Homo sapiens: one gene and its partner. The protein of the gene in region 2 purifies or fractionates together with the protein of the main gene of each other region. This does not show direct contact. Each region holds a gene or a part of one and is shown on either strand. Other genes may lie near its edges.

What was found. The genes of interacting proteins can lie anywhere in the genome.
Region 1: the proteins of NTM (region 2) and PDIA5 purify together in Homo sapiens (affinity purification with mass spectrometry, with the first as the bait; one large-scale study listed by BioGRID). This does not show direct contact.

The regions. Positions count from the first base shown.
Region 1 is NC_000003.12:123,153,875-123,157,524, reverse strand, and holds part of PDIA5 (protein disulfide-isomerase A5 precursor), read right to left. Parts: intron 2,555-3,650; coding exon 2,484-2,554; intron 1-2,483.
Region 2 is NC_000011.10:131,373,576-131,377,225, reverse strand, and holds part of NTM (neurotrimin isoform 9 precursor), read right to left. Parts: intron 1-3,650.

The DNA of each region.
Region 1 (3,650 bases), on a different chromosome or scaffold from region 2:
TTCTGGCTGTCAGTGACCCGCTGGGCATTCCTGAACAAGGGACACAGCTCCTCTCTGGGCCTGGATCCCTCACGAGTAAAGGGAGAGGGGACAGGCCAACAGTCCCCACACACCAGCCTGTGGCCAGCACAAGAGCCAGCTCTTAAAAACCACAAATTTCCAGCACCATCCCCCAGAGACTCTGATCTGATAGTTGTAGGATGGGACCCAGTAGTCACAGTGCCATGCCTGGAGCACAGAGTGGGCACCAGTAAGTTCAGCCCCCCAGGCCAGATGGCTGGCTTCCCTGATGTCATGAATATAACCTCCAGGAAACCCAGGCAGGCCACCTGCCTCAGACAGAGAGGTTATGAAGTGCATTCCTGAATGCAAGTGAGGGTGATCCCTGGCTTGGAATAAAGGAAGCTGAAAGGAGAGACAGAGGGAATAAGAGACAGGAGGACTGAACCCAGGAAAAGGCCACAACACCACTGGCCCAAGACAATCAAGCAAAGGTGTGTCAGTGTCTAAGCGGAGGGGAGCATCAAGGAAATGGGCCCCCATGTAGCAGTGCAGGGGGAATGGGAAGAGAAGACGTGGGCTCTCAGCTGCCCGCTGGAGGCCTGGCAAGTCTGGCCTCACCTGCACTGATGTGGGTCAGGCCACAGGACAGCCTCAGCGGCGGTCTAGTGGGCAGAAAGGGGCCACGTCAATGGGGCTGCCCCTTCAGGGTTTCCCCAGCCCCCTCGGTGCCTCAGCTGGACCACGCTCCCTGACACCATGCTCCCCAGCATGGCTGGGAGGGCAAGCCCAGGATCTGTCTGCCAGTCATGCCTCAGGACCCTCACAGATCTCCTGGGGCCTATGGAGACCTGAGTGTCCAGTGGGACAGGGAGATGGCACACCTCAGCCTTTCTCCTGCTGCCCAGAGCACCCAGCATTCTGGGTGGCACGTGATGGACGTCAATACAGAGTGGCAGCTATTCCGGTCCTGTGGACTGGCAGCCCAGGCCATGCTGGATATCGTGGGACCACCAAGCAGGAGCAACTACCCTGTGCTGTGCACAAGTGGGTGGGAACAATGAGGGACATGGACACGGGAAGGAAGCCCCTGCTGCCATACCCCACTCAGTGCAGGGAAAGGGGCAGGCAGAGGAGAAAACGCTTCTGGTCCTTGTACTCCCTTCTGGTGGGGGTGAGGGGTGCCTCAAAGCCGCAGCCAGGGCTTTCGGGTAACAATGGGACCTCCTGACTCCAGAGAGAGTCCTGGGCTCTGGGTCTAAGTGAGAATCAGGTTCCCAGTTCATCCCCACTCTGCCTGCATGGGCCTGTCCCCAGCCTGGCTTCCTTTGGCTTTATGTCCCTGTAAAGTTCTCATTACCCCATCTCTGCCACTGTCTCTGGGCCTGTTAAGGTGATCCTAGCACCTGTATCTCTGCTCCCACAAGGTCTGGATGGTACCTTTAGGCCTGACCTCCTGTTGGCCTTGATCAAAACTTCAAACCCTGCCCACCCGGCCCTGGGATGGTCATCTGTCTCTGCTTGTGAGGGCTGCTCCACTAATACCTGCTCCCCTTTCCTGCCTCGGCTGAACTTCCGTCTAGGCCTGCTTGGCCTGTTTATCATCTAGGACTCTATGCTCAGCTTATGCCTGGCCTTGGTTCCTTCCAGCCTGCCCTGGCCCCACCTGGGATTCCACCCAGGAAAGTAAGGCACCCCTGCACGTGACTCTGGGTTTGGGTGTGTGTGAATGCAGATCCCACGTGACTGCCAGCTTCTAGGGCCTGTTAGGCCAGAGGTTCCCATGACTGAGTCTCAGGGCTGGGAGGAATGTTTGCAGTCCTCTGCACCAGTGCTCCGCCTGGCATGGATGAGAAGGGAACTCAAAGGCTGGCAGTCAATCACACTTCCCCGAATTCAGGGGTATTTCCCTGCCCCACAAGCCCTCTCCCAGCAGAAGCCCCCACTGCACCAGCTGCCTGGGGGATGTGCCTGGGGGACGCGCCTGGAGGCCCTGCACTCTAATCCAATCTGCAGCTCTAGCTTGTTAATTTTATGCTTCATCAGTCGGCAGCTGCAGGAGCCTTTCACTTAGGCAGGGCGAGGCTCCACTGACATGGCCTTGCTCTCCTCCACCATGGCATCCTCCAGTTGACTTTTGTTGGATTTTTAAATTTGTATTTTTAATTATATAAGTAATGCATGATGACAATCCTACAGTAAAAAGGTTCAAACACTAAAAAAGTAAATAGATGACCCCTTTAACCATCCCTCTCCTCCAAGTAAGTGCTGGAATGGTTCAGCATATCCCTTTTAGTTGATTTTGCAGCATAAATCCAGCCTGCCCTATCTTCCTTCTAAAGAGAATGTCCTGGTTCCCAAGGAATTTCCTGCTTACAGGTCTTAGCAGACCTGCCCCTGTTTGGGGAAGGACCTGAATGACAAGAAGGAAGGTGTAGGAATTAGCTGCAGGCAGATCAAGAGATGAAGAGCGCTGTCCTTACCTTTCGGTCATCTTTGAAGGCATCAGCAGTAGCAGTAAAGTGCGGAATGACCTTCTTACAGTGTGGGCACCCTGTGTGAGAGGGGAAGAGAGCACACAGGACTGTGATGCATGTGCAGGGAGGCTGCAGGGCCAGGGACCCTTCCTGAAAGCTCCAGAGAGGGCTCTCCAGGAGCTCCCCACTGCCCGCCACACTGTCAGGGTCCTTTTGTCAACCTTGCCACTCTAACCACCTCCCACCCATGTCTGATCTATTGGTAGGGGGGACTGGTAGGAGTCCCTGTCACAAGCATCATATGCTCCTGCCCAGGCTGGGGGGCGATGGTCACTGTAGTCTAGTTCTGCTCCTTCCACAGAGGACGAGGAACAGCCTGATCTTGGGGGCAGAGGGAGCTTTGGGCTTAAAGAGGAAGGCACGGGATTCTCAGAGCCGCTACAATCTTCTCTTGCTCCAGGGACAATAGCAAATCTCTCCATTTCCTGACTGAGAGGAAGTGGCGTTGGGAAATGCAGGGTGGGGGGATTTTGGGGCAACTACTCTGCACCCACTGCTCATGATTTGCTGCTAACTTCTGCATTCCTAGCAACCTCCACCCAGCCCAGACTGTGAGCAGCCAAATCAGGCCCTGGTCCCCAGGTCTCCATCTACTCTTTGCTCTACAATAACCAGAACCTCAAAGCCAGGAACAGGAAGGCCATGGTCAGGGTAAGAGGGAGAGGAGCTACGGGAAGTCACCAGGCAGTCCTCAGGTCCCTTGATGCTCCCTGTCCCAGGGAGAAGGCTTGTCAGAGCAGCCTAAGGCCTTTGAGCTATACTGGGGCCCCTACCTCCAGCATCTGTCTCTTGTTCTGGGCATCACCCTGAGCCCCAACTCTGACCTCAGTGTCTCAGAAGCAGGGTAGGGACCTCTGTGGGGGCCACTTTCTCCTCCTGTCCTGGTGAGCCCAGGAGCTGCAGGCTGATCCAGCCCTTCCCTCAGCACTAACAGATCAGAACCCAAACCCCCCTCCTCTCTCAGCCCTTTCCCAGTCACTGGTGAACAGAACTGTCCAGGGCACAGAAGGGCTCTGAGGGGAGGGTTTCCCTGAGCAAGGGGAGGCTCCAGCCCACACCTCTACGTCAGCCAGCCTCCCTCAGCCTCGGGAAGGCAGAGATGCCACGGTGGGA
Region 2 (3,650 bases):
GTTGTGTGGAGTAGCAAAGGCAGCATCTCTGTGTTATGAGAACCCAGAGCCAGGGTGTGCACCTCCTCTTCCCAAACCCCTGTCTCAAAACAAGGATTGAGGGCTGGTTACTTCCCTGCCATCCATCATCATTTGCACAGGAGGCCAGAGGCTGTGCCATGAAGTCTCCACCCTTGCTTCCGGTACTGCTGTTGTTGCTTTCCGTTTATGACAAAGGATGCCAAGCCAAACCAAATCTGAGAGACCCAACTAGGTCTTTGGTCTTATCCGTTAGTTGCTTTTTCATCGCTGTTTTATCTCCAGCACCTAAAACAGTGCACCGAACGTAGTAGACACTCAATAAACACTTGGATGTGATTGAACCCGTGGGCAAATAAACAACCAGATGGATTTGGTGTTAGGGTGAGAGTTTGGTGGCGCTTCCAAGATGAGCAAAGGAAGCACCACTAGCGAGTGAATTTGAATGAGGAAGTAAAGCCAAAACCAGCAGTCTTTTGATCAGTCTTTTCTTATCGCAAAGGGCAATACTCTCACTGAAGCTAAAAAAAAAAAAAAAAATCAAATTTAGTAACCTAAGATGTCCTTAGTAACAGAGCTGAAGAATGTGTTTTCCAATATTTGATTTCTTAGCTTGACAGTCTCTCTTGAAATACGCTCTTCTCCGCAATGAAAATGTGAATCTTTGTTGGTTTGTTTTGCAGTTTGCAAATGACTTACAGAGCTCTTCTGGCAGGGTTTCTGTTTCTCCACTTGCAAATAAACAAAAGGCCATTTCTCTAATATGACTTAAGTAGGGGAGATTCTGTGATCTCCTGTCATGATTTTAGAAGCAGTAGAAAAGGAGAAGAGAAAGGAGGGGCAAGTAGAAAGAAGAACAAGAAAAACCGAAACAGACAGCTTATAGAAGCTGAGAAAAAAAGCAGGAAATAGGCAAAGATAAATTTGATATGGAAAATTAGAGTGTGAGAGATACCAAATAATGGAAGACTCTGTAATTAATAGGATCCCAGAGAACCTTTTGGGGAGGGCTGAACTCGCCCATGGTCCGTTGGCCTCCCTCCCCGCTTCCATCCCATCAGCTGGGCTCCTTGTGAACTGTGAAGACAGGCTCTCCCCTCCTTCTCCTAGGCAAGCCTGCATGAAGCAGAGCAACCCCTGCCAGCTTGACCTAGATCTGTCAACTGATCAATTATTTTTCCCATAGAGGAGAAGGAAAAATGAAAGGAAAACAGAAAAAGGGAAAGAGAAAAAGAGAAGGTGAAGAACAGAGAAGTAGGGGGAGTGGGCAGAAGGAGAGAAGGAGGGAAGGAGGGAGAGAGAATGGGAAGGAAAATGGATGCAGTCCTATATCTTTTCAGTTTAAGCAGTGGTAGCAAGAGCAGGCTTAATCCAGAGGGTTGCATAAATAAAGACATACATACATACATACATGAAAGAAAAAATAAAGTTCTCAGAGGTTACCGACCAAAATCAGTCAAAGCAGAAGCCAGAGCTCTTTTTTTCCCACCCTTTGCCAATCCAGATTAGAGCTATTTTTTCTGAAACTCCTACCTCCAGCTCCATCCTCCCTAGTGCTCCCCCTCTCCACCATTCACGCTGCAGTCCCACACTGAAGCCTCCTTTTGCAAAGGGATGGGAGGCATGCTCCCTGCAAGTGCCTTCTAAAGCCCTTCTGCCCTTCCCCAGTGCACTCTCTGATAAGATGAAGCACCCTCCGGCAATGGGGAGGTGATGCTTCTAGGAACACTAGGATGGTACCCTTTGACCCTTCCAAACTGTATGCCATCGACTTCTTTATTACTGCATGCTTTCTTTTTTTATGTTTAATTGGTTTTATTGAATTTCAAATGACTATAGACATAAAGTAAACATGTAACAAGACAATAGAGCAGAAAGGAAGTAAACTGCATAAATATAATCTCAGCATGGAGTTCCACTTAGCACCACATGTTTGGAGTGTTACAAGCATTAATGAGTCCTTACAACACCCAGGGGAGTCGCTCCCCGGCCTGGTGGGCAGGTGGGGAGATAGGCCCGCAGAGGGAGAGATTTTTCCCTACAGAAAACAGAGAAATTTGAGCTTAGATGTACATGTCCCCCATGGAGCTATGTTCAGACCACTAGAAATGGCTTGAAACCTGGAGACCACGCATATTGGGTGTGTGAAGCATTTGTAGGATCTCTGCTGCAGCAAGAGAGAGAGCAATGTGGGTTTTTTGTTTGTTTGTTTGTTAATCTTTAGCATTCTAGTTTGTGAGCAGAAGCAGATCATGAGCTTGAATCCAAAATACTAGGAAAAAAGCCAAATCACAGACCTGTTCATCCTACCCAAAGTGTGCCTCTACTATGATTGAATGGCAAGAGCATTACAAATCTCTCCAGCATGTGTTTTCTGTACACGTCAGAATCATGTGCCCCATATTGATTCAGAAATTCTGCCATTTCTTGGGATGTTGAGAGAGCTCACTTCATCCCAAGGGACAAGTTTTGGCTAAAATCAACACCAGGTTGTTTGGCCCATCAAGAAAAGGAGCCACTATCAGCCTGGCAGACAGTACGCAGGCAGAGAGCAGAACCCAGGGAACTGCCAGGAGGCAATCTAGACCCTATCACCTCAGGCAGGGAACCAAGAGACACACCTGAAGACACTACGCAGGACGCCTGAATTAAAACCAGCGCTATGGAAGGAGGTTACTGAGAAAGAACAGAAGTCAGGGACTGTACATTGCAGCTGATAAGACGAGATCTGGGGGCTTATATTTGGCTTTAAGGGAACCAAAAAAGGGAAGAATCAGGACCAGGACCAGGCTCTGTGCCTGGTAACTAAAGCTGCAGTTTCAAGAATGGTCTTCATGCAGCGAGACCTGCCGGCCAGGGCAGACACTCTCCAGGCACGCTTGAGCGAATGCTCAGACGGCCATCCCCATTGGTGGGGTGGCCTCCTAATACAAAGGGCGGAGGTGAGCTACATTTGTGCCACTGTGCACGCCTTGCCAGGAACTTGCCTCAAGTTGGCAGCCCCAAGCCTGGCAGGCAGGTTCCATTCGATGAGGCTCCCTGACGCCCTCCCCTTACTGCCATGCTTCCAAGAGCCCACAATGCCTATGTCAGGCCCAGGGTCCCATCATCCCAGGCTGATGTTTCCACTTTGCCAGTAGATATTGCTATGGTCTCGTCTGCCACCCCTGAATATCAGAAGCATTGCCCAGCTCAAGCTGCTGCTGGCACCACGTGTGTACTGTGCATGGCAGGAACCTGGCCGGCCTGCCCAGCCGAACGGCGCCCACCGCCCACCTCCCGGGTGCTGCGCGAAGGGGAGTGTGAACTTTGCCGAGGCACCTTTTCCTTCTCCTCTGCCCTGTCTGTGTCTCAGGCTAGCTGCTAAGCGGATGCGGGATGTGAGGAGAGGTGAGGAAATGAGAAAGGTAAGAGAGGAACCTAGCCAAGCAAATCTGAAGGTGTTAAAAGAAACAATAATCCTTCGAAGGAGAAATGGTCGGTTTTCTAGAAAGAGGAAGCTGCAGCACAAGCAGCCATTCCTTTCAGAGGCTCTCAGTGGCAGAAGGTGGGCGGTGGGTGTTCTGCAAGGGACAGCGCCTGATCCAGTTCTGTAGCGTCTGCTCCCGGCAACGAGATGCCTCCACTTAATC